Regions from separate parts of the Homo sapiens genome. Here all the other regions are linked to region 3. The links come from fine-mapping of genetic effects on gene expression. A gene starts in region 3. Each other region holds a variant in brackets. All regions are shown on one strand. Distances are from middle to middle. Region 1 overlaps RAB6A (RAB6A, member RAS oncogene family). Region 2 has its middle 26 kb from the start of MIR548AL. Region 3 holds the start of PLEKHB1 (pleckstrin homology domain containing B1). Region 4 overlaps MRPL48 (mitochondrial ribosomal protein L48). Region 5 overlaps PAAF1 (proteasomal ATPase associated factor 1).

Region 1 (6,481 bases), 45 kb before region 3:
TACTCCATTTATACTAGGCAGCTTAGGTATTATAAAAAATACGAGCTTTGGAATCTCAGCTCTGCCATTTATTTGGTCTATGGCAAATTCTTTAGCCTTAGATTTGTTTAAAATGGGGTTATTAACATTTTCCTCACAAATAAGAGGATTAAAATGAGAAAATACGTAAACATTCCAACAGAGTAAGTACTCAGTGTCTTTTCTTCCCTTCTTTGATTTGATTGTTTCACACCCTTAAAAATTGTTACTACAGCATTGGTTCTTAACCCTAGCTGCACATTAGAATCATCCAGAGATATTTGAATAAAACACGAATGGCTCAGCCCCACCCCACATCAGTTGAATCAGTCTTTGAGGGTGAGGCCCAAGCATCTGGAGTTTTGTTTGTTTTTAAGCTTCCCAGGTAATTCTGATACCGCATAGGTATTGAGAACCACTAGTCTAGAGGGAAAGACTTCACACATAACCTTTCAAGAAAGCTTTCCTGAGGTATTTCTAATAACTTTCAAAGTTAAAAATAAGGATGGGGGAGGGCCAGTGGGATCACTTTAACCTATTACTCTTACCTAGCTTTTTTTTTTTTGAAACAGTCTCAAGCTGGAGTGCAATGGCGCCATCATAACTCACTGTAGCCTCCATCTCCTGGGTTCAAGCAGTCCTCCTACTTCAGCCTCCCAAGTAGGGACTACAGGCGTCCACCACCACACCTGATTTTTTAAATTTTTAGTAGAGACGAGGTCTCACTATGTTACTAGGCTGGTCTTGAACCCCTGAGCTCAAGTGATCTCCTGCCTTGGGCTCCCAAAGTACTGGGATTATATGCATAAGCCACAGCGCCCAGCCTGTCGCTTTCTTTTCTTTCTTCTTTAAAAAAAAAAAAAAAAAAAAAAGATGGAGTCTTGCTATGTTGCCCAGGCTGGTCTCAAACTCCTACACTCCAAGTGATCCACCCGCCTCAGCCTCCCAAAGTGCTGGGATTGCAGGCGTGAGCCACTGCATCTGGCCCTGTTGCTTTCTTTAAACACATATTTCTCTGATTCATGTACCTACTGGTTAATCTTTTGGTCTCTTAACTTTCATTCATTCCAATTATATTTGCTTATGTTAATTAAATCCTTAAATCCTTTATTTATTTATTTATTTATTTATTTATTTTTTGGAGACGGAGTCTTGCTCTGTCATCCAGGCCGGAGTACAGTGGCGTGATCGCAGCTCACTGCAACCTCTGCCTCCCAGGTTCAAGCAGTTCTTCTGCTTGAGCCTACTGAGTAGCTGGGATTACAGGCGTGTGCCACCACGCATGGCTAATTTTTGTATTTTTAGTAGAGACGGAGTTTCACCATGTTGGCTAGGCTGGTCTTGAACTCCTGACCTCAGGTGATCTGCCTCTGTGCCCAGCCATTAAATCCTTTTTTTATATTTAATTGAAGATACTCATAATTGGCTTTTTTTGTTTTTTGTTTTTTTGTTTTGTTTTGTTTTGTTTTTGAGACAGTCTCGCTCTGTAGCCCAGGCTGGAGTGCAGTGGCGCGATCTCGGCTCACTGCAAGCTCCACCTCCTGGGTTCACGCCATTCTCCTGCCTCAGCCTCCCGCGTAGCTGGGACTACAGGCGCCTGCCAACACGCCCGGCTAATTTTTTTTTTTTTTTTTTTTTTTGTATTTTTAGTAGAGACAGGGTTTCACCGTGTTAGCCAGGATGGTCTTGATCTCCTGAACTTGTGATCCGCCCGCCTCCCAAAGTGCTGGGATTATAGGCGTGAGCCACCGCGCCCGGCAGGCATTTGTTTATTATCAAGTTGACGTTCATCTAATTTAGTCAGAGTTTTCCCTCACTGTAACCCTCTTATGCATGTAAGTTTGAAATCCCTTTTATACTTCTTTTTCCATTAGAACTGAATAAATTGATTTCCTTTTTCTTTCCTTTTTTTTTTTTTTTTTTTTTGAGACAGAGTCTCACTCTGTCGCTCAGGCCGGAGTGCAGTGGCGCAATCTCGGCTCACTGTAAGCTCCGCCTCCCGGGTTCACGCCATTCTCCTGCCTCAGCCTCCCTAGTAGCTGGGACTACAGGCGCCTGCCACCACACCCGGCTAATTTTTTGTATTTTTTAGTAGAGACGGGGTTTCACTGTTAGCCAGGATGGTCTTGATCTCCTGACCTCATGATCCGCCCACCTCGGCCTCCCAAAGTGCTGGGATTACAGGCGTGAGCCACTGCGCCCGGCCTTGATTTCTTTTTTTGCTCTGTTTTTGAGGTCAGGAGGATTCAGTGGGCATAAGTATTGCCAGATTTTCTTTGACTTGATATGAAAATAAGCTCTCTGAAGTCTGTGTTGGTCTGCTGAGTAGTATTGTGGATAGTTATACCCAAAGAATTAATCTGACAATTAACGTTCAATAGGTACCCAACAGCCAGCAAGTAAAGGCACTAATATAAACATTTGTGCTGCACTTTTTGCTTTCTTTTTTTTTTGGAGACAAGAGTTTTGCTCTTGTCACCCAGGCCGGAGTGCAGTGATGTGATCTCGGCTCACTGCAACCTCCGCCTCTCAGGTTCAAGTGCTTCTCCTGCCTCAGCCTCCCTAGTAGCTGGGACTACAGGCGCAAGCCACCATGCCCAGCTAATTTTTTTGTGTGCGTGTGTATTTTTAGTAGAGACGGGGTTTCCCCATATTGGCCAGGCTAGTCTTGAACTCCTGACCTCAGGTCATCCGCCTGCCTCGGCCTCCCAAAGTGCTGGGATTACAAGCGTGAGCCACCGTGCCTGGCCACTTTTTGCTTCCTAATGTGTTTTCACACCCCTTAATTATTGTTTTAGCTAACATTTTGAAAAATATCTACTGCATGTCAGATACTGGGATAACAAAGATGAAATGAGAGCCTTGCTCTCCAGAAGTTTAAAGTCTAGAGGGAAAGATAGAGAAGTAAAAATAGGCTATTACAATCAGTGCAGTAAATAACTCTGAAAGAACTACTGGTGCTACTTGGAGTATATATTTTAGTGCTGGGCATGGTAGCTCATGCCTGTGATCCCAACACTTTGGGAGGCCAGGAGTTTGAGACCATGGCAATACAGCAAGACCCCCATCCCTACAAAAAATAAAGAATTAGCTGGGTGCCCAGGGGATGCTCTGGCGAGGGCAGACCCCAGGAGAAAGCAAAAGGCGTCTCAGGGAACCCCCACATTCTCTCACTGAAGTTTCCCACCAGGATGACCCCACAGCCAGAGTCCCTTGGCAGCCCCTCACCCCAGAGCCCCCTTCTAAGGAAAAAAGAGAAGTTCAGGGCATTGGACCTTCATTAACAGTGGCCTGGCTGGCGTGGCAGGCCCAAGGCCCACTCACTGCCATCCCCTTTCTGTGTGTCCCTGTCCCCTAGTTCTAAGGCCCAGGGCCTGAGCTCTCTTCCCCAGCATCGCCCCCCCACCCCCGAAAAACCCCGCCTTTGGAGAGTTAATTTTCTGTGTGAGGTGCTTAACCTATCAGGCCTGAGAACACAAAGCAGTAATCTTTGTTACTGAGATGCGGCTGTTCGTGTTTTGGGTTTTTTTTTTTTAATGTTTCCTAATAAAAGAAGCTGCATTTTGTTGGTTTTTATTTTTAATTTTCTACACATTTGAGCTGAGTCCAGAGACACTTAGCTTCCCTGTCCCCCATACCCGGACCCTTCCACCCCACTGGACCCAACCATGGGCTCAGAACCCTGGAATTCCGTTTGCTGATTTGTTTGGGTTTTTTTTTTTTTTTTTTTTAAGATGTTACATGGTATTTCGAAGCCAGCAAGTTACCACCCTCCGGTGTCTCTTCTCTCCACATCTGTAACTTCTTTTTCCAGGTTTTATTTTCAGTTTTAAATTCCTAATAAATTATTTGAAAATGTTAAAAAAAAAAAAA[G/AG]AATTAGCTGGGTGCCTTGGCACATCCCTGTAGTCCTAGCTACTCAGGAGGCTGAGGCAGGAGGATTGCTTGAACCCAGGAGTTCAAGGCTATCATGAGTTATGATCACATTTTCATTGCACTCCAGCCTGGCAACACAGTGAGACAGTGTATTTTTTAAAAAGATTTTATTAGACAGGAGGAAGAAGATTTAAGGAACTGGGGAGTGAGTTAGAGAAGCTTTTAAGGAGTTATCAAGGAATGGGTCCTGAAGGATGAGTGTCAGCTAGGCAAATTGAACTGGGAGGGTATTCCAAGGAGAAGCATCATCATTGTGTCCTTTGAACTTCACAACTGTATCCCCTTTTTATTAGAATGAATCTAAGAATTAGAGATAGTAAATATCCTTGAGATTACAAAGCTGTAATAATGGGGTAGTTAATAGTAGAGTTTCTTTCTGGGCTTGTATTCTATGCTCTTTCTATATGCACATTAAATGCTGTATTAAATTATGGAAATAGGCTTTTACCCTTTCTGCCTTACACCATGTGAAAAGAAGTTTTCCCCTCCTCCAGAGTGTTGACAAAAAAAGCCAAACTGTAAAATATTTAAAGAGGTCTATTTTGAGCCAAATATGAGTGATCATGCCTGAGTCGGTCTTTTTTTTTTTTTTTTTTTTTTGAGACGGAGTCTCACTGTGTTGCCCAGACTGGGGTGCAGTGTTGCAATGTCCACTCACTGCAACCTCCACAGAGGCACAGTCGAGATTCTGAGAACATCTGCCCAAAGTAGTTGGGTTACAGCTTGGTTTTATACATTTTAGGGAAACATAAGACCTCAGTCCGTACATATGACATAGACATTGGTTTGGTCTGGAAAGGTAGGACAACCCAAAGTGGTGGTGGGGGTTGAGGGGAACTTGTAGGTCATAAGTGGATTCAGAGATTTTCTGAGTGGCAATTGGTTGAAAGAGTTATCTAAAGACCTGGAATCAATAGAAAGGAGGAGTGTCTAGGCTAAGATAAAAGGTTGTGGAGACCAAGGTTATTACGATGTAGGTCAGGGGTCCCCAACCCTTGGGCCACAGCCCAATACTGGTCCGTGGCCTGTTAGGAACCAACCCACACAGCAGGAGATGAGCAGCAGGTAAGCCAGCATTACAGCCTGAGCTCTGCCTCCTGTCAGATCAATGGCAACATGATATTCTCCTAGGAGCATGAACACTATTGTGAACTGCACATTGGAGGGATCTAGGTTGCACACTCCTTACAAGAATCTAAGTAATGCCTGAAAATCACAGGTGGAACAGTTTCATCCCAAAACTATCTGCACCCCAGTCCATGGAAAAATTGTCTTACAGGAAACCGGTCCCTGGTGCCAAAAAGGTTGGGGATCGCTGATGTAAATGAAGTCTCATAGGTGGCTGCCCTTAGAAGCAATTTTTTTTTTTTTCTTGAGACAGGGTCTCCCTCTGTCTTCCAGGCTGGAGTGCAGTGGCATAATCACAGCTCACTACAGCCTCAACTTCTGGGCTCAAATGCTCTTCCCACCTCAGCCTCCTGAATAGCTTGGACTACAGGAGCCTACCACCACACCTGGCTAATTTTTTATAGAGACAAGGTCTCCCTGTGTTGCCCAGGGTGGTCTGGAACTCCTGGGCTCAAATGATCCAACCACCTCGGCTTCCCAAAGTGCTGGGATTACAAGAGTGAGCCACTGCCTGGTGGCAAGTGTTTCTTATTTAGACCTTTAAAAGTTGCTAGACTCTGAGTTAATCTCTTCAGGATTGGGAGAACCTGGAAGGGGAAAAAATCTACTTATGTAAATAGAAATGTTTTACAGATGCAAGTTTTCTCTTCACAAAGTGGCCCTTTGCAGGGCTATTTATGGCAAAAAGAATGTTATTTGGGGGTAAGATATTTTGATTTCCTTTATCTGTAATGTGATACTATACTAGAGTCAGGTGGTAAATCCTTAGCAGAAGACCCAGGGACAAGATCTCTTAAGAGTTCAAGATATAGAAAGTACACAGAATGGCACCAACTCATTAGCAATTCTCTTATTTCTCCGGAGCCAGAACGTGATGGACACAGAGACTAATTCATTGTATTTTATATATCATCAACTAGGCTCAAATCTGTCTCTCTCTTCCTGGGAGTCTACCCCGCTGTTGAGACTGCAAACTAAGCCTTCCAGAGATGGTAAATAGGACTTCAAGAGACAGAGACAGGCACAAGAGGCACTGCACAGCCCTACTGACCCAGCCTAGATCCAGAGTTCAGCAGACCATGAGACAATGAAAGGATATTTAGTAATCTTTTTTCAGAAGTCACAGTAATGATTTATTTGGGCAAAAATCACCAATTGGTATTAAAACCTTAAAGTGAAAATTTGACAAAGAATGATAAGAGATATACATAATTGCAGAGAATCTCCTCTCATACTTATTAATCACAAAAGGAAAGTTGGTAATTTGGCAGTGAAGAAACTTGACCAGCTCTACCTTAATTTAACCAAGTGGCTAAAATTCACTTCACCAGTAAGGGCACAAACCAGCATAAGGTGCCTCCTGATATGATACACTAAGAAAGACACTATCTCTTCTGTAGTA
Region 2 (6,481 bases), 780 kb before region 3:
ACTATTAACTTCACATAATTTTCACATCATATTTTTCTAAAAATGTAGAAACAATTCTTAGCTCATGGGTTGCACAAAAACAGGAGTAAAATGGGTTTGGCCAATGGACCATAGTTTGCTGACCCCTAGGTTAGTCTGATCATGATCCATTGCCTGGAGCTGAAGACACGGCTACACCAAATAAAATTGATATTCCGTTAATCAAGATGGGAGAAAAGACGACATATTGGATAGGCATATTAGTAAGTTTCCTATTAGATATGAAAACTGTATAAAGCCGTAATATGTGAAGCAATGTGGTATTGGTGCAGAGATAGCTAAATAAGTAATAAAACAAAGAACCTAGAAAAAGACCAAGATGTGTTAGAACTAGCTGTATAATAAAGGTAGTATTTCAGGCCGGGTGCAGTGGCTTACGCCTATAATCCCAACACCACGGGAGGCCAAGGCGAGCGTATCACTTGAGGTCGGGAGTTTGAGACGAGCCTGGCCAACGTGGTGAAACCCCATCTCTGCTAAAACAAAAAACAAAAATTAGTCAGGCGTGGTGGCACACGATGTAATCTCAGCTAACAGGAGGCTGAGGCAGGAGAATCACTTGAACTGGGGAAGCAGTGGTTGCAGTGAGCCAAGATAGTGCTGCTATACTCCCAGCCTGGGTGACAGGGTAAGACCCTGTCTCAAAAAAAAAAAAATAGCATTTCAAATGGAAAAATTGATTATTTAATAAATGGTGCTAGAAAAATAGGCTAATCTTATGAAAAAATATGAAATTTTTATATATGTATAATATATATAATAAGACCCCTGTCTCTTACCATACTCAAAAATAAATTGCAGATGAATTATAAATCCAAGTCTGAGAAGCAAAACTTAAGAAGAAGGGTTTCTTTTCTAAAAAAAAGAAAATTGTATTATTTAGCTATTGCTCCGTAACAAACAACCCCATAACTTAGTGGCTAAAACAACCATTTTATTTGCTCTCAATTCTGTGGTCAGAAATTTGAGCTGGGTGCTGCTTATAGTGTTTTCACCATGCTGCAGTCATTGGGAGGATCAGCTTGACCAGAGAGGTCTACGATAGCCTCATTCACATGTCTGGCAGCTGGTGCTGGCCATTCACTAGGCCACTGTCTCCAGCAGGCAAGCCTGAAGGTGGCTGAGATGCAAGATGCAAGTTTCAATGCACAAGCACTTTTCAAATCTCTGCTTACATCAATTTACATCAAAGTTGGCTTGGCCAGAGCAGGTCACAGAGTTCATTTAGCCAAGTCCAGAGTCAATGTGGGCGGGAACTACATAAGAATGTGCATACAGGATGCTGTGATTCACTGGAGTCATTATTATAATATTCTATCACAAAAATATTAAAAATGTCTTCATGATATTAGAATTAAGAGAGTATTTTTTAAAAGAAAACACGGTGCACAAACCGAAAGGAAAAGACTGCTAAATCTGATTATATTAAACTGAAATCTTCTGTATGTTACAAATACCAAGCGAAAAGACAAGTCATAAATTGGGAAAAGATATTTGCCAACAACAAAGCAATAAGGATTATATCCGGAATATATAAATAATTCCTTCAGATCAATGAGAAAAAGATAAATGACAATTATGAAATGGACAAGAGATGTTTTTAAAAAAGCAATTCACAGAAGAGGGAACCCCAAAGACCAATAAATACATGACAAAAATGCTCAACATCATTAAAAACCAGGAAAATACAAATTAAAACAAAAATGACATACAATTTGGCACTCATCCAAATTGGCAAATAATAAAAACACAGAGTGTTGGTGAGAATGTGGGGAAATGGGAACTCTGATATGTTGTCATTGGGAGTGTATATTGATACAACTATTTTGAAGGACAATTTATCAGTATTACCAAAGTGAAGACGTGCCTATCCTGTGACCTGATCATCCCACATCTACGTATATACCCAATTGAGTGGTTCTCAGTTGCCTGAAAGAAATTTTTAAAAAACATACTGATAGCCATGTGCAGTGACTCTTGCCTCTAATCCCAGCTACATGGGACGCTGAGGCAAGAGGATTTTGCTTGAGCCCAGGAGTTGGAGGCTACAGTGAGCTATGATCTCACCACTGCACTCTAGTCTGGGCAACAGAGCAAGATCCTGCTTCAAAAAAAAAAAAATTCAGATTCCACTTCAGACCAATTAAACAAGAATCTCTTGGAAATGTGAATCAGGTGTTTAAATTTTAATCTCTAATATGCTGCTAAGGTTAAGAACCATTGTCCTAAGGCAACTCTTGCATATATGCCCAAGGTGCACAAGGATGTTCAATGTAACATAGCTTATTATTAGGGAAAAGTTGGAAACAGTGTGAGTGTCTATCAATAAAGGACTGGATACCTTGAGGTTAATTTTTTCTGCGCCTCAAATAGGATAATTTTAACTGTCCTCTTAAATTCACTGAGTATTCTACCTGCTCAAATCTGCTGTTGAACCCCTCTAATAAGTTTTATCCTCAGTTATTATACTTTTCAGCTCTAAAATTTCCATTTGGTTCCTTTATATGACTCTTTTTTTTTAATTACTATTCTTATTTTGTTCACACACTGTTTTCCTGGCCTCCTTTCATTCTTTTTTTTTTCTTCTTTTTTGAGACGGAGTCTAGCTCTATAGCCAACCTGGAGTGCAGTGGTGCGATTCTCCTGCCTCAGCCTCCTGAGTAGCTGGGACTACAGGTGCGTACCACCATGCCTAGCTAATTTTTGTTTTTTTAGTAGAGATGGGGTTTCACCATGTTGGCCAGGATGGTCTCGATCTCCTGACTTCGTGATCC[G/A]CCCACCTCGGCCTCCCAAAGTGCTGGGATTACAGGCGTGAGCCACTGCGCCCGGCCTCCTTTCATTCTTTGTCCATGGTTTCCTTTAGCTCTTTGAGCATATTTAAGACAGTTGATTTCAAGTCTTTGTCTACTAAGTCCAATGTCTGGGCTTCTTCAGGGACAGTTTCTGTCTAACTATTTCGTTCCTTTAAATGGGCCACTCTTTGATTTATCTTTGCATGTCTTGTAATTTTTTGTTGAAAACTGAGCGTTTGCAGCTGGGTGTGGTGGCTCATGCCTATAATCCCAGCACTTTGGCAGGCCGAGGGAGGTTGGTTACTTGAGACCAGGAATTCAAGACCAGCCTGGTCAACATGGCAAAACCTCATTTCTACAAAAAATACAAAAATTAGCTGGGTATGGTGGCACATGCCTGTACTCCCAGCTGCTCAGGAGGCTGAGGCATGAGAATTGCTTGAATCTGGGAGGCAGAGGTTGCAGTGAGCTGAGATGGCACCACTGCACTCTAGCCGGGATGACAAAGCAAGACTCTGACTCAAAAAAACAAAACAAAACAAAACAAAAAACCCACACACAAAACTGAGCATTTAAATAATATAATGTGATTAATGTGGTAACTCTGGAAGTCAGATATTCCCCCTTCCCCAAGTTTGCTGTTGTTAATTGTTGAGGACTGTAGCCATCCATTTATTTAATGATGCTTTCAAACTGTTTTTGGAAAGAGTGTATTCCTTGTCATGTGCAGTTACCAAAGCCTCTGTTCCATTATCTCAGTGCTTAGTGAAGTGACCTAACAAAGATTTCCTTAAGTACTCAGAGCCAAAAAGAGAAAAAAATACTACTCTTCTGGTCTTTGCATCTTGGTTGTGAGTGGGGACATTTTTTTCACCCCTACACCAGGCCACCTACAGGTCTGCCTTTGCCTTTACTTCCTGTATGCATGGAGCCCACAGATCTTCCAGAGGTGCCAAGCCTATGATCCTCTAAGGCCTTTTCTTTTCTTTTCTTCTTTTTTTTTTTTTTTTTTAGACAAAGTCTTGCTCTTGTCGCCCAGGCTGGAGTGCAATGATGTGATCTCAGCTCACTGCAACCTCCACCTCCCGGGTTCAAGCCATTCTACTGCCTCAGCCTCCCAAGTAGCTGGGATTAGAGGTGCCCGCCACCATGCCTGGCTGTGCAAGCACATGGTCCTGGGAATGCATGGTCATCCCAGCATTTTGGGAGGCCGAGACAGGCAGATCACCTGTGGTCAGGAGTTCGAGACCCGCCTAGCCAAAATGGCAAAACCCTGTCTCTACTAAAAATACAAAAAATTAGCTGGGCGTGGTCACGCATGCCTATAGTCCCAGCTACTGAGGAGGTTGAGGCACAAGAATCACTTGAACCCGGGAAGCGCAGGTTGCAGACAGCCGAGATTGCGCCACCGCACTCCAGCCTGGGCGACAGAGCAAGACACTGTCTCAAAAAAAAAAAAAAAAAAAAGCCATAGTGCTCTCTTACCAAAAGTCAACTGCCCTTTTCCTTATTAAGCATTCCCCTGGTTCCTGTAAGTTTTGGATATTTCAGGGTCCCAAAAAGTTGATTCTGTCAGTCTTTGATAGCTTATGTTTGTTTCAGTGGAAGCACCAATTCTTTGAGCACCCTACTGTGCCATTTTCTATAATGTCACCTAATGATGCTGTCTTGATACTATTTTCCTTCTCTCCCCAGGCCTGAATCGTTGGTCTGTAGTTTTGATCCATCTCTCCTCACTGCTTGGGAACCCATCCAGAGCCCTGTCTGCTCAGCCTGCACCTACCCAGTACCTTCAGGTTCCCAGCAGCTGCACATGGTGAATTCTTATCATGAAATATTATACATAATTTTAAATAAATGAATGAGAGCTACATTATCAACATAAAGATATCCCATAAATGTAATTTTGACTGAGACAAGCAAGTTACAAAAAGAGCATAAAGTATAAAATTATTTGTGTAATTTAAAAATACACAAAACCAGCCAGGCGTGGTGGCTCACACCTGTAATCCCAGCACTTTGGGGGGCCAAGGCAGGTGGATCACAAGGTCAGGAGTTCCGGTCCAGCCTGGTCAACATGGTGAAACCCCGTCTCTACTAGAAAAATATATAAATTACCCAGGCATGGTGGCACGCGCCTGTAGTCCCAGCTATTCAGGAGGCTGAGGCTGAAGAATTGCTTGAACTCGGGAGGCCAAGGTTGCAGTGAGCCGAGATCATGCCACTGCACTCCAGCCTGGGTGACAGAGCGAGACTCTGTCTCAAAAAAAAAAAAGCACAAAACCATAGATACATACCAAAATACTGATAATACTTCTCTGGGTGAAAGGACCACATAAAGTTTTTATTTTCTTTATTTTGCTTATATTGTTTATTTTCTATATGTTTTAGTTGTGCATTGCTGCTGTAACAAATTACCATGAACTCAATAACTTAACCCAATACAAATTTATTATCTTATGCCTGGAGGTCAGAAGTTCAAAATGGGTCTCATAGAGTCAAAATCAAGGTGTCAGGAGGGATGAAGTCCTTCTGAAGGATCCAGGGGAGAATCCATTTCCTTGCTTTTTCCGAGTTCTAGAGGCTTCCTGATTTCCTTGGCTCATGGGCCCTTCTTCTCTCTCTAAAGCCAGCAATGATAGGTTCTCATAGCACATGACTCTGGCCCTGCTCCCATCATTATATTTCATTCTCTGATCTCTTCTTCCTCCTTCTTCTGCTGTTAATGACCCTTGTGATTACACTGGTGCCACTTGGATGATCTAGGATAATGCTCCTTATCTGAAGATCCTAAACTTGATCACATCTGCAAAGTCCCTTTTGGCATGTAAGGGAACATATTCACAGGCTCCAGGAATTAGGATATGGACATCTTTGGAAGGCCATTATTCTACCTGATACATTATAATAAATATGATATGCTTGAAAGAAGGAAAAAAACATGAGTTCAAAGGCTTCTTAAAACTACCTGCATAATGTGCTTGGATTTGCGCCAAAGCCAATGATCTTATGAAAATCCTCTAATCATCATCGTCCAACTTTACATTTTATAGGCCCAAAATAAAGAACAAGTAATAAACAAAAATCTACACAAAGGTTGTATATTCACCCTGCAGATAAAAGACTGATGCACCTGTTCCAACATTATTCATTTTTCCTGCATATAAGTTTGTATCATAACAGTATAAAAATATTATGTCAAAGGGCTTTTAACTCATCTTCACTGACTATAAAAGAAATGCAAATCGAGATGACCATTTTTTACAATGTTGGAGAGAATGTAGGGTAAGAGGCACTCTCACAGTTGGTAGGAATATAAGCACAGCTCCTAGGGAGAGCAATTTGACAGTATCTGTCAAAACTTAAAATGCACATACCCCTTGTCAGCATTAACTCTATTTCTAGGGGTTTTTCCTGTAGATACTCTCACATGTTCCCAAAAATATAGATACAAGAATATCTAAGGTCCCATTGTTATAATGGTAAAATATTGGAAGCAGTAAAAACGTCCATCTGTAGGAGAGTGGTTAAATAAATTGTGTATGTTCTGAGGTTAAGAACCAAGATTGCACGTTAAAGAAAGTGAAAAGACAAGCAACAAGCTGAAAGATCCTACAAATATCGAGGATATATAAAAACTCTTACCAATT
Region 3 (6,481 bases):
CCAGTAAGCCACTTCCTTCACCCTGCCCCAGGACCAGGGGCCCAGGATCACTCACTCTGTCTCCACAGCCAGCCGCCCCTCACCAGGGCCATTTCTTCAAAAGGACTTTCCAGAGCGGAGTCAGGCGGGACCTGTCAGAGGAGCCACGGGAGACACAGGCCTCAGCAGCAGCTCCCTGGAGAGAAGCCCCCAGCCCTGCCGTCCCTGGGGAGCCACCCAGGAAACGTTTGAGGGAGGGTTAGTAAACAAGGGCCAGGCGGCCTCGGCCTCCTCCCCATTCTCTGCTCAGGAAGAGAATGGGAGCACTGTCACTGTGGGGTCAGCAGGGCAGCCATTGGTGTGGGGTGGGGGTGGGGACCAGGAGCCTGGATTCCAGCCTCAGCTTGGTAACTTTGGCCATATCCCTCCTCCCTGGCCCTCTGTCCTGGTCTCAGTTTCTAGATCTGTAGAAGTGTGTCTGTGAGGCAGGCAGAGGCTGGAGGGAGGAGCTCTTGAAACATTAGAATATGCCTGACTAGCTCAGTCGGTGGAGCATGAGACTCTTAAAGTATTAGAAACCTTGGGATTCTGTAATGTGGAAGTGCAGAATATTAGAATCACGGCAATGGATGAGGGAAAAGCTCCCTCCTATTTGGACCCCACTAGAGCTGTTTACAAAGTGCTTCAAAGAGCAGTTCAACAGCAGCTGTGATGGACCGAGCACTCTGTCCGGGTACCCCCTATCAGTGCTTTCATCCATTATCTCATTTAAGCCTCCCTGCAGTCCTTATTATTCCTATTTCAGAGATGGGGAAACGGGGGCCGGAAAGGTCCAGTCAGTTGCACGGGGCCACTTGATTAGTAAGCAATGGAGCCCAGACTCACACCCAGCAGTCCTGGCTTCAAACCGTTATGCCGGCAGGAGCTTTGAGAACTTCCGATACCAGGCCACACTCCGTAACAATTAAATCAGAATGTCTGAGGGCAGGAGGCAAGCCCTGATACTCTTCAAAGATCCTCAGATGATTCCAATGTACAGCTAAGTTTGGACGTCACCGCACATTCTACTCCCTCACCTTGTCCCCACTCTAACCCTGTTAGGAAGGGAATCCTTACTCCTGTTTTACAGATGGACAAACTGAGGGTTAGCAAATGACTCATCCATGTACATGATGTAGCTTGCACTGGAATCCAGGTAGGTGCCCTCTGTTCCTGAGGGCGACTCACTTGCCAGCGGGTGCCTCCGCCCCTCCCCCACCTGCTCACACCTGTTGCTGCGTAACAAGGGCTGGCACACCTGGGCTGGAAGGCCCAGCCTTGTCTGTTCCTCTTGCCGCTCCCTCCCCTCTCCACGGTCTTGACACAGATCAGACAAGAGGGTCAGGTGCAGACTCCTTTTCCAGCCCCTCCCCTTGATGCACCCACCTTGTCTACACTTGTTGCGGATGTTGCTGCCTAAGCGGCCGCTACTCGATGCTGCTGCCACCCAACCCGCTGCGCCTGCGCTTTGTGTGCCCCGGAGAGCCTGGGGCATTTCTCTCCTCCCGCAGCGCCTGAGAGCCCAGCTGCCCCCGGGCCCCGCCCTCCGGACCTGCCCACCCCAGGGAGGGGGAGTGACGTGAAGAGATGCTGACCCGAGGCGTACTGGGACTTGTAGTCTACCCCTGTAGAGCTGGGCAGAAGCAGCCCCGCCTGCAATTTTACTTTTCTATTAAGACATTTGTTCACTCATTTATCATGAAATACTTTTTCTTAAGAATCATTGAACTCAGTTCCTAGAAAAAAAGAAAAAGTAAAGTTGCAAGGAGAAGCCAAGCTCCTAGTTTTGCATGTTTTTTTGATGCTTCCCCTTTCCATCCCCAGCTTCCAGTCTAGTGAGGGAGATTACATGGAAACACACAATTGGAGCACAAGGTGTGATTTAACAATGGAAAAGATGAGCCTGACTTTTCTCAAGGGGTTCAGGAAGGCTTCCCAGAGGAGGCTGAAAGGGGCCTTGGAGGATGAGGGGCAGTTTCCTAGGCGACCCGAAATTTCCCCTATGAATACTGTCAGGATGTTGAAGAGTGCCCAGCATTTCCGTGTGTCTAGAACATAAAGCGCAGGGGTGGGGAGGGCATCGGGAGTGTCAGGCGATAGAGCTGCAGGGTTTGGAAAGAAATAGCACAGAGGCCTTGCATGACAGGCGGAGAGCTTGGATGTTAGGACGCAGTGACTGGAGCTGGGGGTGGGAGTTTCAAGATGAGGAGTGAGGTGTGTGATTAGGGGGTCGGAAAGGCCCCTCTAGGGCACAGTGAAGAATGGACTGGCGGGAGCCCACCTGGAGAAAGGAAGACTTTCTGTATCTATCACCTCGGACTGTGATCATTTCCTTCAATAGCTCAGCCCCGCAAACCCTCACCTACCAGCAGCCACAGGATGTCATTCAGAGACCAGAGGATGTCAGGGCCTAAAAGACTTCTGTCCCGTCCCCTATGTGGCAAGGGTGCCCACCCTGCCCTGGGCCCTTCCTCCTGTCCCAGAGAACTCTTCCTTACCGGGGCTGCAGGGCTCATGGTTCCTGGGTGGCCAGGGCAGCATTTCCCAGAAGGCTCCCGCAGCGGGGCATTTCCCTGAGCGCCTTAGAGATAAGGGGATCAGGAAGGTGCTACCAAGTGGGAGGCTGGAGGGGGAGGCAAGGAGGGAGCGCACAGATCCCAAGGAAGGTCGCCCTCTTTCTCCAGGCTCCTCCCAGCCTTTCCAACTGATGGCTCTGACCCTAGGTTCACTAGACAAGTCATCCCTGATTCAGAAGTGGTCTTGGCTCAGCATCGCCGAGGTTCCCGGAGTGGAATCGGGGCGAGGTTGCGGGGGCAGGACAGGAACCGGGCTGGTCCTCCTCCCTAGGTTGGGGGCGGGGCTACATCTTCATTCTTTGGCCTGGCAGGACAGCGCCCATCACCCCAGTCCTGGCTGCGCAGTCTGGCTCTTTAAGCCTTCCTCTCTTGCTCCTGAGTCTCTGTAATCCTGACCTCGAGCTACCCTCGCTCCTCGGCCCTTTGTGCGGTGCGTGCCCTGCTGAGGGATTCGCCATGGCCAATCCTATTAACCATTGAGTTCATCCCCTCTTAGCCGACTCAAGAACCAGCTCTCCCATACCGCGTTTTCATCTCTGTGCCTTTAACTCACTCTCTGTCTGGTTCCTGGAACGTCCCAGTCCCAGCTTCTCCTAGCTAAATTTTCCACCTCCACAGTGGAAGGAAGAAAGGAAGCAGTGGGAGGGGGAAAGAGGCAAGGAAAGAGATATGGAAGGAAGGAAAGACAGAAGGAGAAAAGAAGGGAGGGGAAAGACGGGAAGGCAGGTAGGTAGGGCTGCAGCTGGCCTCGGAGGATCTGCGCCTGGGTCCTGCCCCGACCCAGCCTCTCTCCAGCTCTCCCTGCTCCCCTCCCCGATGGGCAGTGGGGCATCCTTCATGTTGAGGGGCGGGGACGGTGCAATCATCTCCTAGATTTCATTCTCTGGATTTAGCAACCAGATGAAAAAGGAAGGTTCTCCAGCAGCAGTGGAGACTTCAGGGGAAGACTCTCCCCTACCTCCCAAAGAGCGGGCACTATGACGAAAAAAAGAGGAAAGGACGTGGCAAACTAAAACCACAGACACTACTACCGAATCTAAACGTAGCCGGACTTGGCCCATGTCTCTAAAAGCTGGTCAGTGACCCTCTTTGAGAAGCCAATAAGGAAGTGTAGACTGTCCTCAGGAAAAAATCTGCGTATAATTCCTGGGAGTTCATAGACCTCTGAAGCCATGATAGTCATGGTTGGATTGTTTTTAATTTCCAGAGCTGTGTAGATGGGAGGAGAGTGTAGATTGACGAGTGAGAGGTATGACAGTATGTCAGGAATTCCAGCCGCAGCAGTCCTGGCTGTGAGAGACTTTGTTTGTTCAATCAACTAAAACTTATTGAGACTAATAAGCCAACAAGTAACTTTTACATTTCTTTGTGGCTATGGTGCACAGAACCATTGGCAGAGAGGAAAAGATTTTGCCATTTCAAGTGTCCCTGGTGAATGAACAGCCCACAGATAATACATTGTTTAGGAAATAGTGGACTGGCTCATCAAATTCAAATTTACTACTTACATTTTCTAGAGAGTATAATATAATGAGAATAATTTATATTATCTTTATTTTAAAAAACTTGAAGTTTATATCAAGATGCAATTTGAGCAAAAGTAAAAGTGCTTATGAAAACATTTTAAATGGCCGGGCGCTGTGGCTCATGCCTGTAATCCCAGCACTTTGGGAGGCCAAGGCGGGCAGATCACCTGAGATCGGGAGTTCGAGACCAGCCTGACCAATATGGAGAAACCCCATCTCTACTAAAAATACAAAATTAGCTGGGTGTGGTGGCACATGCCTGTAATCCCAGCTACTAGGGAGGCTGAGGCGGGAGAATTGCTTGAACCGGGAGGCAGAGATTGTGGTGAGCCGAGATTTCACCACTGCACTCCAACCTGGACAACAAGAGCTAAACTCCGTCTCAAAAAAAAAAAAAAAAAAAAAGAAAAGAAAACACTTTAAAGTGATAATTTTACGCTTTTTTTTGTCTTTTTTTTTTTTTCCTTTTTCTGGAGAACGGGGTCTCGCCATATTGCCCAGGCAGGTCTCGAACTCCTGGGCTCAAGCTATCCTCCCGCCTCTTGCCTCCCTGAGAGCGGGATTACAGGCGTGAGCCACTGCGCCCGGCCAAAGTGATAATTTTAGTGAGATGTAATTCACCTACCATAAAATTCACCCTTTTAAAGTAAAAAATTCAGTGGGTATTTTTTTTTTTTTTTTTGATGGAGTCTTGCCCTGTCACCAGGCTGGAGTGCAGTGGTGTGATCTCGGCTCACTGCAACCTCCGCCTCACAGGTTCAAGTGATTCTCCTGCCTCAGCCTCCCGAGTAGCTAGGACTACAAGCGTGCACCACCATGCCCAGCTAATTTTTGTATTTTTAGAGATGGAGTTTCACCATGTTGGCCAGGATGGTCTCGATCTCTTGAGCTCGTGATCTGCCCGCCTCGGCCTCCCAAAGTGCTGGGATTACAGGTGTGAGCCACCGCACCTGGCCTTCAGAACATTTTTATCACCCTAAAAAGAAACCCTAGGCCAGACATGGTAGTTCACGCCTGTAATTCCAGCACTTTGGGAGGCCAAGGGTGGCGGATCACCTGAGGTCAGGAGTTCGAGACCAGCCTGTCCAACATGGTGAGACCCTGTCTCTACTAAAAATGCAAAAATTAGCTGGGCGTGGTGGCGCGCACCTGTAATCCCAGCTACTCAGGAGGCTGAGGCAGGAGAATCACTTGAACCCGAGAAGCAGAGGTTACAGTGAGCCGAGATCACACCATTGCACTCCAGCCTGGCTACAGAGCGAGTCTCCATCTCAAAAAAAAAAAAAAAAAGAAAAGAAAAGAAACCCTATAGTCTTTAGCAGTTACTCCCAATCTGTCTTCCCCCCAAGTCCCTGGCAAAATTAATCTGCTTTCTTTCTGTACAGATTTGCCTATTCTGGCCATTTCATATAAATGGAATCATGGGCCAGGCGCAGTTGGCTCACACCTATAATCCCAGTGATTTGGGAGGTGAAGGCAGGAGGATCTCTTGAGGCCAGGAGTTTGAGGTTATAGTGAGCTGTTACTGCACTGCTGTACTCCAGACTCAGTGACAGAGTGAGACCTTGTTTCTAAATAAATAAATAGTTTTAAAAAATAAATGGAATCATGCAATGTGTGACCCTTTGTGACTGGCTTCTTTCACTTAGCATAATGTTTTCAAAGTTTATCCAGGTTGTAGCATGTTATCAGTATTTCATTCCTTGTTTTTTGTTTTTGTTTTTGTTTTTGTTTTCAGACAAGGTCTTACTCTGTCACCCAGGCTGGAGTGCAATGGTGCGATCTCACTGTAGCCTCAACCTCTCTGGCTCAAGCAATCCTCCCACCTCAGCCTCCCAAGTAGCTGGGACTACAGGCACATGCTATCACACCTGGCTAATTTTTGTATTTTTGGCAGAGACCGAGTCTCGCTATGTTGCCCAGGCTTGTCTCCATCTCCTAGGCTCAAGCAGCCCTCCTTCCTCAGCTTCCCAAACTGCTAGGATTACAGGCCTGAGCCACTGCGCCTGGCCCATTCCTTCTTACTGATGAATAATATTCTATTTTATGGATATATCGTGTTTTATTTATCTATTCATTGGTTGATAGATATTTGGGTGATTTCTACTCTTTAGCTATTATAATACTGCTGTGAACATTTGTGTACACATTTTTGTGTGGACATATATATGCTTTATTTTCTCTTGGGTGTGAAATTTCTGGGTCATGTGGTAACTCTACGTTTAACATTCTGAGGAACTGTCAAATTATTTTCAAAGTGATTGCACCATTTTACACGCCCATCAACAACCTCTAAGAGTTCCGATATTTCTATGTCCTAGCCAACACTTGTTATTGTCTGTCTTAAGTATTCACTCCTTG
Region 4 (6,481 bases), 170 kb before region 3:
AGCAATTCTCCTGCCTCAGCCTCCTCAGTAGCTGGGATTACAGGCATGCATCACCATGCCTGGCTAATTTTTGTATTTTTAGTAGAGATGGGGTTTCACCATATTGGCCAGGCTGGTCTCGAACTCCTGACCTCAGGTGATCCACTGGCCTCAGCCTCCCAAAGTGCTGGGATTACACGCGTGAGCCACCGTGCCCCACCTCACTCTTTTTTTTTCTTTTTGAGACATGATCTCGTGCTGTCTTCCAGGCTAGAGCACAGTGGCAAAATCATAGCTCACTGCAACTTCAGTCTGACTCATGCAATCCTCCCACCTCAGTCTTCGTCTTCTGAGTAGCTGGGACCACAGGCACTCGCTATCCCACCAGGCTAATTATTTTTTTTTTGTAGAGATGGAGTCTCCCTATGTTGTCCAGGATGGTCTTAAACTCCTGGGCTCAGGTGATCTTCCCCTCAACCTCCCAAAGTGCTGAGGTTATAAGCGTAACCCACTACACCTGGTCTGGACCACATATTGAAAAGAAAAAATATTTATCAGAAGGTAATATGAAGGATTTTTTTTTTTTTTTTTTTGAGACAGAGTCTCACTCTGTCGCTCAGGCTGGAGTGCAGTGGCGAGATCTCGGCTCACTGCAAGCTCTGCCTCCCGGGTTCACGCCATTCCCCTGCCTCCGCCTCTGGAGTAGCTGGGACTACAGGCACCTGCCACCACGTCCCACTCATTTTTTGTATTTTTAGTAGAGACGGGGTTTCACCATGTTAGCCAGGATGGTCTTGATCTCCTGACTTTGTGATCCACCCGCCTCGGCCTCCCAAAGTGCTGGGATTACAGGCGTGAGCCACCATGCCCAGCCATGGATTTTTAAAAATAATCTTAGGGTAGAAAAGACCTTTTTAAGCATGAAACAAAATCTAGAAATCAAAGATTAATAAACATAACTATATAAAAATCTAAAGCTTCTGTTTAATGGAGAAAACACAAACATAAAGTCAAGGGATAAATGACTAGAAAAAGTACAAGCATATGTAACAGAGAAATGCTAATTTCCTTAATATATAAGAACTATATTAAAAGTTCTTACAAATCAAAAATGAAAAAGTAAACAATCCAATAGAAAAATTGACAAAAAAACATAAATGGGCCAGGCACAGTGGCTCACGCCTGTAATCCCAGCACTTTGGGAGGCCGAGGTGGGTGAATCACCTGAGGTCAGGAGTTAGAGACCAGCCTGACCAACATGGTGAAACCCTGTCTCTACTAAAAATACAAAAAAATTAGCCAGGCGTGGTGGCACATTCCTGTAGTCCCAACTACTCAGGAGGCCGAGGCAGGAGAACCACTTGAACCTAGGAGGCAGAGGTTGCAGTGAGCCAAGATCATGCCACTGCACTCTAGCCTGGGTGACAGAGTAAGACTCTGTCTCAAAAATAAGTAAATAAATAGGCAATTCATTAGGAAACAAATACAAATGGCAAATAACCATATGAAAAGATGACAAATTCAAGACACACAAATTAAAATGAGACATAATTTTCACTAACAAAAAAAATATTATTTTTTTAGGCCAGGTGCAGTTGCTCACACCTGTAATCTTAGCACTATGGGAGACCGAGGTGGGTGGATCACCTGAGGTCAGGAATTAGAGACCAGCCTGGCCAACATGGTGAAACCCTGTCTCTACTAATAAATACAAAAATTAGCCAGGCATGGTGGCGCATGCCTGTAGTCCCATCTACTTGGGAGGCTGAGGCAGGGGAATCTCTTGAACCCAGGAGGTGGAGGTTGCAGTGAGCCAAGATCGTGCCACTGTACTCCAGCCTGGGTGACAGAACGTGACTCAGTCTCAAAAACAATAAAAAATAAATAAATAAATATATATATATATATATATATATTTAGACATGGGATCCTGCTCTGTCGCCCAGGCTAGAGTATGGCATCTATTCACAGGCAAAATCAAAGTGCGGTACAGCCTCAAACTCCTGGGCTCAAAGGACCATTCTGGGACTTCAGCTTTCCATGTAGCTGGGACTACAAGTTCATGCCAGTGCTTCCAGCTAACAGTAAATGTTTTATAAAACCCAGTTTGGGCCGGAAAATAGAAATGTAAATTAATACAACTTCTCTGGTGGATAGTCTGGCAATACTTATCAAAATCTCCAATTCATAATGCATTGACTCAGCAATTTCAATTCCAGGAATTTATCTTACAAATGTACAGGAACAAGTTTACAAAGACATACGAAAATGGCTGGTGTACCATTTTTTGAAACAGCAAAAAACTAAAAACGACCTAAATGTCCAGCATTAAGATACAGTCATACACACACATAATATAAATCTTCATATATACATAAAATCTTCCTGAAAGATACACAAGAAATTGCTATCAGTGGATATCATGAGGGAGTTAAGATTGGGAAAGAGGGCCGGGCGCGGTGGCTCACACCTGTAATCCCAGCACTTTGGGAGGCCGAGGCGGTTGGATCACAAGGTCAGGAGATCTAGACCATCCTGGCTAACACGGTGAAACCCCATCTCTACTAAAAAATACAAAAAATGAGTGGGGCGTGGTGGCAGGTGCCTGTAGTCCCAGCTACTTGGGAGGCTGAAGCAGGAGAATGGTGTGAACCCGGGTGGTGGAGCTTGCAGTGAGCCAAGATCTCGCCATTGCACTTGTCTGGGCAACAGAGTGAGACTCCATCTCAAAAAAAAAGACTGGGAAAGGGCAATAAAATTTCACTTTTCATCATATACACTTTTGTACAGTTTAAGTTTATTCTTCCCATATGCATCCATTTCAATTTTTTAACAGGTGATAATTTTAATAGTATTAGGTTGGTGCAAAAGTGCAGTTTTTGCCATTATTTTTACTTTTGCACCAACCTAATAATTTTTTTAAAAGACTTTCCTCAGAATATATACCAATTCAAAATAAACTTTGCCTATGGTTGAGAAGGATAAGGGATAAGACCAAGGCTAGAGAATAATGATGACTTGAACATAGATCTTTTTGTTTTAATACAAAAAAGACAATGAAAGTCTGACAAAATGTTAATAGTTGCCAATTCTGGGTTTATTTGACATATTACTCTTTTACTCTTCTATATTTTTTATATCTCTCAAAATAAAAAGTATAATTAAGAGATAAACAATTTTTAAAAAAA[C/AC]CTCTCCTTCACCCTACATCTCTCTTCAGTTCCTGCCAATATTTTATTGACCCATTCAGTCTCAAACTTTTTTAAAGCATTGTCTACAGTCATTTTTTTCCTAACTCTTGGACTTTCATTCACTTGTCACCTCATGGTTAATTTCCACAACCCATCCACCCCACCTACCTAGACTACCCTCCCTAAGGTCACCAGTGACCTCTAGATTGCTAAAATCCAAGGATACTACCATGTTCATGTTTTTCCTGGTCTCTCAGTAGCACAGTTGAAACTGTAACATGGTTGGCCACTCTTTCCTTCTTGAAACGCTCTCCTCTTGCCTGCCATGATACTATACTATCCAGGTTTTCTCCACTATGGTCTCTCTTTCTCAGCTTCATTAGACTTTCTCCCTCTACCCAGATTTTTAAGGTTGAAATTCCTCAGGGTATGATCCCTGGGTCTCTTCTCCACCTTTTCTCCTTAAGTGATCACATTCATTCCCATGGCTTCAATTAAAACTGACAAAATAATGACTTTCATATTTATAGTTTCAACTCAGACCTAAATTTTTAGCTCAAGATCAGTGTATCCAATGGGCTGCTTAATATATCCTTTGCAGGCACTCCACACTATTACAAAAACCACAGAAAAACAAACACTGGATGTTCTCACTCATAAGTGGGAGTTGAACAATGAGAACACATGGACACAGGGAGGGGAACATCACATACCAGGGCCTCTCGGGGGGTGGGGGGCTAGTGGAGAGATAACATTAGGAGAAATACCTAATGTAGGTGATGGGTTGATGGGTGCAGTAAACCACCAGGGCACGTGTATCTATGTAACAAAACTGCACGTTCTGCACATGTAACCCAGAACTTAAATTACAATAAAAAAAAAAAAATAAAGAAAGAAAACATCCTTATTTCTTTTTTCTTTTTTGAGTCAGAGTTTCGCTCTTGTTGCCCAGGCTGGAGTGCAATGGCACGATCTCGGCTCACTGCAACCTCCGCCTCCCAAGTTCAAGCGGTTCTCCTGCCTCAGCCTCCCGAGTAGCTGGGATTACAGGCATGCTCCACCATGCCCGGCTAATTTTGTATTTTTAGTAGAGATGGGGTTTCTCCATGTTGGTCAGGCTGGTCTTGAACTCCTGACCTAAGGTGATCCGCCCATCTCGGCCTGCCAAAGTACTGGGATTACAGGCATGAGCCACTGCACCTGCCCGAAAATATCCTTATTTCTAAAAACCCAAGCTAAAGTATTCAAGCGTAAAGTATCATGATGTCTGATTTTTAAGAAGCTAACATGACAAAATGTTAACAAAAGTTGAATCTAAATAGTGGGTAAAGAAATGTTCATTGTATTATTCCTAGGGAAAAAATAAGCTTCTAAAACTACTAAATAGCAAGGACTATATCCTCTTAATTTTGTATCACCAGCATCTAACACACAGTCTAGTAAGATACATGTTTGTCAAGAGAATGTATAAATAAAAAGAAGCCCATTATTTTGAGATGTTAGGCTTTGGGCCCAGTAGAAATGGTGATTCCCTACACATTGCCGCCATCTTCTAAAATAATTAACATATGTAAAGCCTCTTCCACACTTCCTTGCACACAGTAGGCACTGAGTAAAAAATGTTAGTTCCCTTCCTTACTTCCATTCCTTTATCTCTGATACTTGTCAGACACATGACAAACGTCATTAAAATCCAACAACTCCATTGAAATTTCTCACATAATAGACAAAGCAAAAATGGCAAGTAATTGGGTTGAAACAGAGATGGATATCCATTGAGTTAATCAGACTGAATGGACATTCATTTTGGATTAAACAGTGTGAGAAAAGCCCTAGCCTGATGATGGACATACAAGGCAGTTCTGGAATAGTAGCAGTATTAATAATAATAATAATTACAGCTGCTACTTTTTGAGCATTTTATCTTTTTTTTTTTTTTTTTGAGACGGAGTCTCGCTCTGTCGCCCAGGCTGGAGTGCAGTGGTATGATCTCGGCTTACTGTAACCTCTGCCTCCGGGGTTCAAACAATTCTCCTGCCTCAGCCTCCCGAGTAGCTGGGACTACAGGCATGTGCCACCACGCCCGGCTAATTTTTTGTATTTTTAGTAGAGATGGGGTTTCACTGGGTTAGCCAGGATTGTCTTGATCTGACCTCATGATCCGCCCTCCTCGGCCTCCCAAAGTGCTGGGATTACAGGCGTGAGGCACCTGGCCAAGCACTTTATATCTTTTGTCTCACTGAATCTTCAAATGGTACACTACAGTTTGTATTACAATTATCCTCTTTTTTTTAAATTTTTTTAATTTAAGAGACAGGATCTTGCTCTGTCACCCAGGCTGCAGTGCAGTGGCACAGTCATAGCTCACTGTAACCTGGGCTCAAGAGATCCTCCTGCCTTGGCCTCTGGGGTAGGTAGGATCACAAGCCTGTGCCACCACACCCAGTTAATTTTTAAAAAAATTTTTGTAGAGACAGGGTCTCACCATGCTGCACAGCCTTCTCATTATTTTTTTTTTTTTTGAGATGAAGTCTCGCTCTTGTCCCCCAGGCTGGAGTGCAATGGCGTAATCTCAGCTCACTGCAACCTCCGCCTCCCGAGCTCAAGCGATTCTCCTGCTTCGGCCTCCCGAGTAGCTGGGATTACAGGCGCCTGCCACCACGCCCAGCTAATTTTTTGTATTTTTAGTAGAGACAGGGTTTCACCATGTTGGCCAGGCTGGTCTCGAACTCCTGACCTCAGGTGATCCGCCCGCCTCGGCCTCCCAAAGTGCTGGGATTACAGGCGTGAGCCACCGCACCCGGCCTCACAGCCTGCTCATTTTTTAAGGTGAGGAAACCAAGCTACAGAGAAATAGCCAAAGATCAAATAAATATGTAGTACAGTTGGAATCCAAACTTACTGTAGAGCTCTTGCTCTTAGCCACTACTTGATGTTCTCACCCATGGTTCTATTCCATGCTCACATGGAGGGGTGGGGTTTGGTTCAGGCCACTGTTCTCAAAGATATGGTAGGCTTCCTTCTAGGCAAAATTATTATAGAGTGCTAAAGGGTCACTTAAAGCAGGCCAACTACATCAGGTAAAAACTGCTTACCTACAGAATAGATGGGCTTCTCTCCTGAAGTTCTAAACCTAAAAGGAGGGAGAAAGTATGTTCAATACAATTAGAAACCCATATTTTATTTGCATAGTTTGCAAAATTTATATTCTATCACTAAAGATGCATCAATGCTGTTTCCTTACTCCTTCTTTCCTTTCTTCCTTCCACAAACTTTAATAAGGACCTGATGTGTGCCAAAGTGCCACATCCTGA
Region 5 (6,481 bases), 270 kb before region 3:
TGTCTTTATGCATAAAGTTTTTTCTGTATTAAGATTATGACTTTGTATATATAAAGACCTGGAAAAGAATCAGCAGACATTAACCTTTTCAAACTTTTTGGAAATCTGAACAACTGTTTTCCAAATTTATCTGTTAATCTACATTCAAGCAGCAGCATATACGAGGTAGTACCTTACCCTTTTTTGCATTACTATTAAAAATCACCTTCTCCAAAAATGAATCCTTGTCTTTTAGAGAGACATATAGAAATGCTAACAGATGAAATAAGACGCTCATGATATATTTCAAAATATATGAAGACTGAGGAATGCAAGGGAATGGGTAAAACAAGATTAGCAATATATTGATAATAGCTTAAGTTGGATAATGGGTATAACAGGTTCATCGTGCCATTCTGTCTACTTTTAGATATGTTTGGCAATTTGCATCAAAAAATTTTGTTTTTTATTTTGTTTCATCTGGCAACTTAAATCTCCTCACTAATAATCAAAGAGTTCCAAAGGACCTCAAAAATCATCTATATCCAACTTCTTTTTTTTTTTTTTTTTTTGAGACGGAGTCTCGCTCTGTCACCCAAGCTGGAGTGCAGTGGCGCGATCTCGGCTCACTGCAAGCTCCACTTCCCAGGTTCACGCCATTCTCCTGCCTCAGCCTCCCAAGTAGCTGGGACTACAGGCGCCCGCCATGATGCCCGGCTAATTTTTTGTATTTTTAGTAGAGACGGGGTTTCACCATGTTAGCCAGGATGGTCTCGATCTCCTGACCTCGTGATCCGCCCGCCTCGGCCTCCGAAAGTGCTGGGATTACAGGTGTGAGCCACTGTGCCCGGCCTATATCCAACTTCTAAACCAGTACAGAACTCCCTCTACAGCACATGGCAGAGCGGCCAAACAGCCTACACTTGCCCATCTCCAGAGTTAGGGGTGCCCACTACCTTAAGGGCAGCTTCTTTCTTAAGGAAAAGAAAGCTTTTCCTTTATAATTAACTGAAATGTGGTTTCTGATAACTTTCTCTTATTGGTCTTAGTTTTGTCCTCTGAAAACAGAGTTATAATCTTACTCCCTTTGCCTTTAGACATCAGTACTGGAAGTTATGCCTTGCCTTCTTCCCAGCAGAAAAGTAGAAAAGTACAAAAAATCTGCTCCTCTGGGTTGAAACCCGGGCGCCACCAAGATGCCAGCTTACCACTCTTCTCTCATGGATCCTGACACTGAACTCATTGGAAACATGGCACTGTTACCTATCAGAAGTCAATTCAAAGGACCTGCCCCCAGAGAGACAAAAGATACAGATACTGTGGATGAAGCCATCTATTAGTTCAAGGCCAATGTCTTCTTCAAAAACTATGAAGTTAAGAATGAAGCTGACAGGACCTTGATATACGTATCTCTGTCTACGTTTCTGAGTGTCTGAAGGAACTCCAGAAGTGCAATTCCAAAAGCCAAGGTGAGAAAGAAATGTATACACTGGGAATCACTAACTTTCCCATTCCTGGAGAACCTGGTTTTCCACTTAATGCAATGTATCCCAAACCTGCAAACAAACAGGAAGATGAAGTGATGAGGGCCTATTTACAACATCTAAGGCAAGAGACTGGGCTGAGACTTTGTGAGAAAGTTTTCGACCCTCAGAATGATAAACGCTGCAAGTGGTGGACTTGTTTTGTGAAGAGACAGTTCATGCTAGAGTCTTTCAAGACCTGGACAGTGAAAGGAGCACGGGCAGCCACCATCTCCAGAGCCCTGGGCAGCATTTTCCAGCAAGATATACGAATCTTTTGCCTTTATTTCATAAAGTTTTATACAGAAGAGAGAAGACCATGTCTTTACTTGAAAAACTCTTGATCAAGAATTTGGGTGGGAGAAAAGAAAGTGGGTTATCAACAGTGATTTGAAATTTTCTGCAGCATTAAGCTGGCGCTTAGTAAGAATAAGTAATAATAAAGAAATTTCTAACATTCCAAAAAAAAAAAGTACAAAAAGTAGAACCATGAGTCAGCTCTTCTCCACCTACACTCCTCATATAACCCACACATCACCTTGCAACAGAGATTTTTTTTTTTTTTTGCGAGGCAGTCTCACTCTGTCGCTGAGGCTGGAGTGCGGTGGTACAATCTTGGCTCACTGCAACCTCCACCTCCCAGGTTCAAGTGATTCTCCTGCCTCAGCCTCCCAAGTAGCTGGGATTACAGGTGCACACCACCATGCCTAGCTAATATTGGTATTTTTAGTAGAGATGGCGTTTCGCTATGTTGGCCAGGCTGGTCTTAAACTCCTGACCTCAGCTGATCCACCCGCCTTGACCTCCCAAAGTGCTGGGATAACAGATGTGAGCCACTGCACCCAGCCAGAGATGTTAATAATCAGTAAAATGGCCTGTAGATAGGACAGAGGAGGCGAGAAATATCAAGGCCTCAGGTGATCTATCCGCCTTGGCCTCCCAAAGTGCTGGGATTACAGGCGTGAGCCACTACACCCAACCTTATTTTTTAATTTTTAATTTTTTTTTTTTTTTGAGACAGAGTCTCACTCTGTCACCCAGGCTGGAGTGCAGTGGCGTGCTCTCAGCTTACTGCATCCTCCACCTCCCAGGTTCAAGTGATTCTCTTCCCTCAGCCTCCTGAGTAGTTGGGACTATAGATGTGTGCCACCATGCCAGCTAATTTCTGTATTTTTAGTAGAGACAGCGTTTCACCATGTTGGCCAGGGTAGTCTCAAATTCCTGACCTCAAGGAATCCACCCGCTTCAGCTTCCCAAAGTGCTGGGATTACAGGTGTGAGCCACCACGCCCAGTCACTATCTTTTTAATATTTTTTTAATTGAAAAAATTATTTTTGAGACAGAGTCTCGCTTTGTCACCCAGGGTGAAATGCAGTGGCACAATCATGGCTCACTGCAGCCTCACCTCCTAGATTCAAGTGATCCTCCCACCTCAGCCTCCTGAGTAGCTGGGACCACAGAAATGAACCACCATGCCTGGCTAATTTTTATTTTTTGTAGAGACAGGGTCTCCTATGTTGCCCAGGCTGACCTCAAACTCCTGGGCTCAAGTGATCCTCCCGCCTCAGCCTCCCAAAATGCTGGGATTATAGGCATGAGCCACTGTGCCCAGCCTACTTGTTTTTTAAATTAAAAAAA[T/A]ATATAAAAAATATTATATTTTGGAGTGACTTTAGGTTTACAGAAAAGTTAGTTAAAGATAATACAGAAGGTTCCCATATGCCCTTAATCAGTTTCAGGTTTTCCCAAATGTTATCACCTTACATTTGTCAAAACTAAGATGCCAATATTGGTACACTACTACCACCTAAACAGCATGCTTTTTTTTTTTCACCAGTCTTTCCTTAACATCCTGGATCCAATCCAGAATACCACTGACTTAGTTGTCAAGTTTCCTTAGTCTCTTTGGTTGACTTTATTTTCAAATCACTAAATTAATATAATCTGAAATGGACTCTGGACTTCTTGTTAAGTGAAGCAGTATCCTTTCCTAACTGTTTAAACCATATTCAGCTGGGTGTTCTGTAAATAACAGCCCAAAACATCCTAACTGACATACTGAAATGCTCAAGGTAGGTAGGTAGTCCCTCCAGGCTGTATAGTCCAGTCCTCCTGACCTACATCATTCCTACAAGGATCCAGTGTCCCTTAATGTACACTTTGCTCCAGGCATTTCCCCAACACCATTCCTGAACTCCATTCCAAAGAGTTTGTCCTGGCTACATTAAGATACTCGCTTTACCTAGAATATGTATGTAAAGCATCAAACACAGTACCTACTACATAGCAGGCCCTCTGGAAATGCTAGTGCTCTTCTTCTTTTGCCCCCGCTTGCCTCATCTATGACTTTGCATATACAATAGCTTCAGCTTTCAGTGTCCCTCTTTACATCTCCAGTGGGTGAAATCTTTATCAGTTTACATGTCACGTAGTTCACGAAGACCTTGCTGACAGCACTCCTACCTCTAGAATTAGCTATTCTTCATTTCCTCATGCAGTCTTCTGATGTAGTCCTTATCAAACTGGACTGCAATCAAATGTTCACACGTCTGTCTGCCTTACTGTGAGCTCCTTTAAGGCAGAAGAGTGGTGGGCATTGAGCTAAATTCTGGGAATAACACAATGAATAAGGCACAGTCACCACCCTCAAGGAGTTTGAACTGGAGGGGGACACAGACAATCACAACGTAGAGTGATAAACACTATTGATAGGTACAATATGCCAAAGAATCATGGGGGACCATGCCCCAACCCAGCCATAGATCAGACACTTAAAACTATGTTTAATTAACTGAACTACAGAGAAGCATCTCTCTCAATTGGCCCATGGACCCACCTTGGCTAGCAATGAATCCATCTCTGACACTTAGCAGGGATAGAACTGGTGCTCCTGATCTGTGGATGACTTGTACCGGAGCCCTAGGATTCAGAGAAAGGGGAAATTTTACTTTCTTTCTTCAAAAGCAATACTTGACTATATTCAACATATAGTACTAACCACATAAGAGCAAACAGGATAAAATGTGAAGAAAGATTAAACATTTCTATGGTTTCTTTCCTGGCAAGAACCTTAACTGGCAGATTAAGGTAATTCAAAAACCATCCATGTCTCTAAACATGAACTAAGTCACCACCCAAATCCTGAGTTTTTAAGGTAGGTATGACATGGGTTGAAGATAACAATATTAGCAGTATGTTAAACTTTTCACTTAACAAAAGAATTAAGATTTGTTGTAAAATATTAAAATTGTCAGGACTCTAAAAAGAAAGAGGCTGAGGCAGGAGAATGGCGGGAACCCGGGAGGTGGAGCTTGCAGTGAGCCGAGATCGCGCCACTGCACTCCAACCTGGGCTACAGAGCAAGACTCCATCTCAAAAAAAAATAAAAAAAAAAAAGAAAGAGAAAGCTGAGTGAGAATCAATTTAATATATATGTAAGTGTGACTTTATAATAGTGATCAGAGATTCCCTATCTCTGTGGAGGCAAAAAAAAAAAAAAAAAAAAAAAAAAAAAAATTAAGTAACTGAAATGATGGAAGAAAAGGTATAAGCTAGTCACCATCTACTGGAATTTATTCCCTACTCTTGGAATAAACTTAGAATGGCAGGTAAGGTCAGAGCAGCTCCTGTTTTCCTGCTGGTATCACTTCTCACCACTGCCCTCATATGCAGGGAACATACCTGTCATAGACTCCTGAAAACAATCCCCTTCACATGCCTTCATATATGGGATTCTATACATGGGATTCTACCGAGGCCAGCTCTTTTCCTCCTTCTTTACTTGGCAACGTCCTACTCAACAAGACCCAATGTTTCTCATTTCCTTGGAGAAGCAGTCTCACCTCCTTCCCTCTCCTTTTTGGTGCTTCCTTAGATTTCTGTAGCTAGCCCTGTCAGACAAGTGATCACACTGCACAACAGTCTTTTACTTGTCCATCTTTACCATTAGACTCCAGGTGCCTCAAAGGCAGAGTCTGTATCTTTTTTTTTTTTTTTTTGAGATAGAGTCTCGCTCTGTTGCCCAGGCTGGAGTCCAGTGGCACGATCTCAGCTCACTGCAACCTCCACTTCCCAGGTTCAAGCGATCCTCCTGCCTCAGCCCCCCAGTACCTGGGATTATAGGTACGTGCCACCATGCCCAGCTAATTTTTGTATTTTTAGTAGAGACAGGGTTTCGCCATGTTGGCCAGGCTGGTCTTGAACTCCTGACCTCAGGTGATCCACCCACCTTGACCTTCCAAAGTGCTGGGGTTACAGGCGTGAGCCACCACGCCCAGCCCAGAGCCTGTACCTTTTATTTCTGGTTTTCAGTGCCTTGAACCAAGCCTGATGCCCACAGAAGCTATTTTCAATAAATATCAGTTGAAAAAAGGAAGGAAATCAAAGGAGGAAGGGACAAAATTGTAGAAATTGTTAAATCCTGCAACAGAGAGATTGTGTGATTCTCTTTGGATATCTTTAAGGCCAAAGAAAAGCCTGTTTAGAAAGGTCATGATCAAAACTACATAACTAACAGAGCTGGGTTCCTTGAACTAAAAATGATCATTCAGGGCTGGGTACAGTGGCTCATGCCTGTAATCCCAGCACTTTCGGAGGCTGAGGCGGGCAGATCACGAGGTCAGGAATTCGAGATCAGCCTGACCAACATGATGAAACCCTGTCTCTACTAAATATACAAAAATTAGCTGGGTGTGGTAGCGCGCACCTGTAATCCCAGCTACTCAGGAGGCTGAGGCAGGAGAATTGCTTGAACCCGGGAGGCAAAGGTTGCAGTAAGCCGAGATAGCACCACTGCACTCCAGCCTGGGCGACAGAGGGAGACTCCATCTCAAAAAATAAATAAATAAATAAAAATAATTCAATCTTTCAATCTTAGGGTAGCCAGGGTCTAATGTAAGAGAAAATTACTGAGCTCTTTAAAATTAAAAGTTCTAGACAATCAATTTAAATGAAATGTTAGTTTATATTTAAGCTTAATTTTC

Evidence for each region.
Region 1: its variant is fine-mapped to the expression of PLEKHB1 in whole blood (INTERVAL, PIP above 0.99).
Region 2: its variant is fine-mapped to the expression of PLEKHB1 in whole blood (TOPMed, PIP 0.98).
Region 4: its variant is fine-mapped to the expression of PLEKHB1 in whole blood (INTERVAL, PIP above 0.99).
Region 5: its variant is fine-mapped to the expression of PLEKHB1 in blood mononuclear cells (TOPMed, PIP 0.99).

The regions. Positions count from the first base shown.
Region 1 is chr11:73,687,966-73,694,446 of GRCh38, reverse strand. The region is part of intron 6 of RAB6A (RAB6A, member RAS oncogene family); the gene reads left to right. It also overlaps the pseudogene LOC268276. Among named protein-coding and RNA genes, the nearest start is that of PLEKHB1, 45 kb to the right of the region's middle. The variant G/AG (reference allele first, on the strand shown) is at 3,892.
Region 2 is chr11:74,422,364-74,428,844 of GRCh38, reverse strand. No RefSeq gene overlaps it. Among named protein-coding and RNA genes, the nearest start is that of MIR548AL, 26 kb to the right of the region's middle. The variant G/A (reference allele first, on the strand shown) is at 2,814.
Region 3 is chr11:73,642,662-73,649,142 of GRCh38, reverse strand. PLEKHB1 (pleckstrin homology domain containing B1) reads right to left here and starts at 2,562. Exons shown (of 8, transcript NM_021200.3): 1 at 2,517-2,562; 2 at 56-131. The coding sequence starts at 2,534. RefSeq lists enhancers at 1,284-1,443, 2,079-2,997 and a silencer at 1,484-1,703.
Region 4 is chr11:73,808,132-73,814,612 of GRCh38, reverse strand. MRPL48 (mitochondrial ribosomal protein L48) reads right to left here. Exons shown (of 8, transcript NM_016055.6): 3 at 6,263-6,300. Among named protein-coding and RNA genes, the nearest start is that of MRPL48, 23 kb to the right of the region's middle. The variant C/AC (reference allele first, on the strand shown) is at 3,168.
Region 5 is chr11:73,916,887-73,923,367 of GRCh38, reverse strand. It overlaps PAAF1 (proteasomal ATPase associated factor 1), which reads right to left. Exons shown (of 12, transcript NM_025155.3): 10 at 4,336-4,418. It also overlaps the pseudogene ARPC3P4. Among named protein-coding and RNA genes, the nearest start is that of DNAJB13, 31 kb to the left of the region's middle. RefSeq lists a silencer at 2,644-2,856. The variant T/A (reference allele first, on the strand shown) is at 3,141.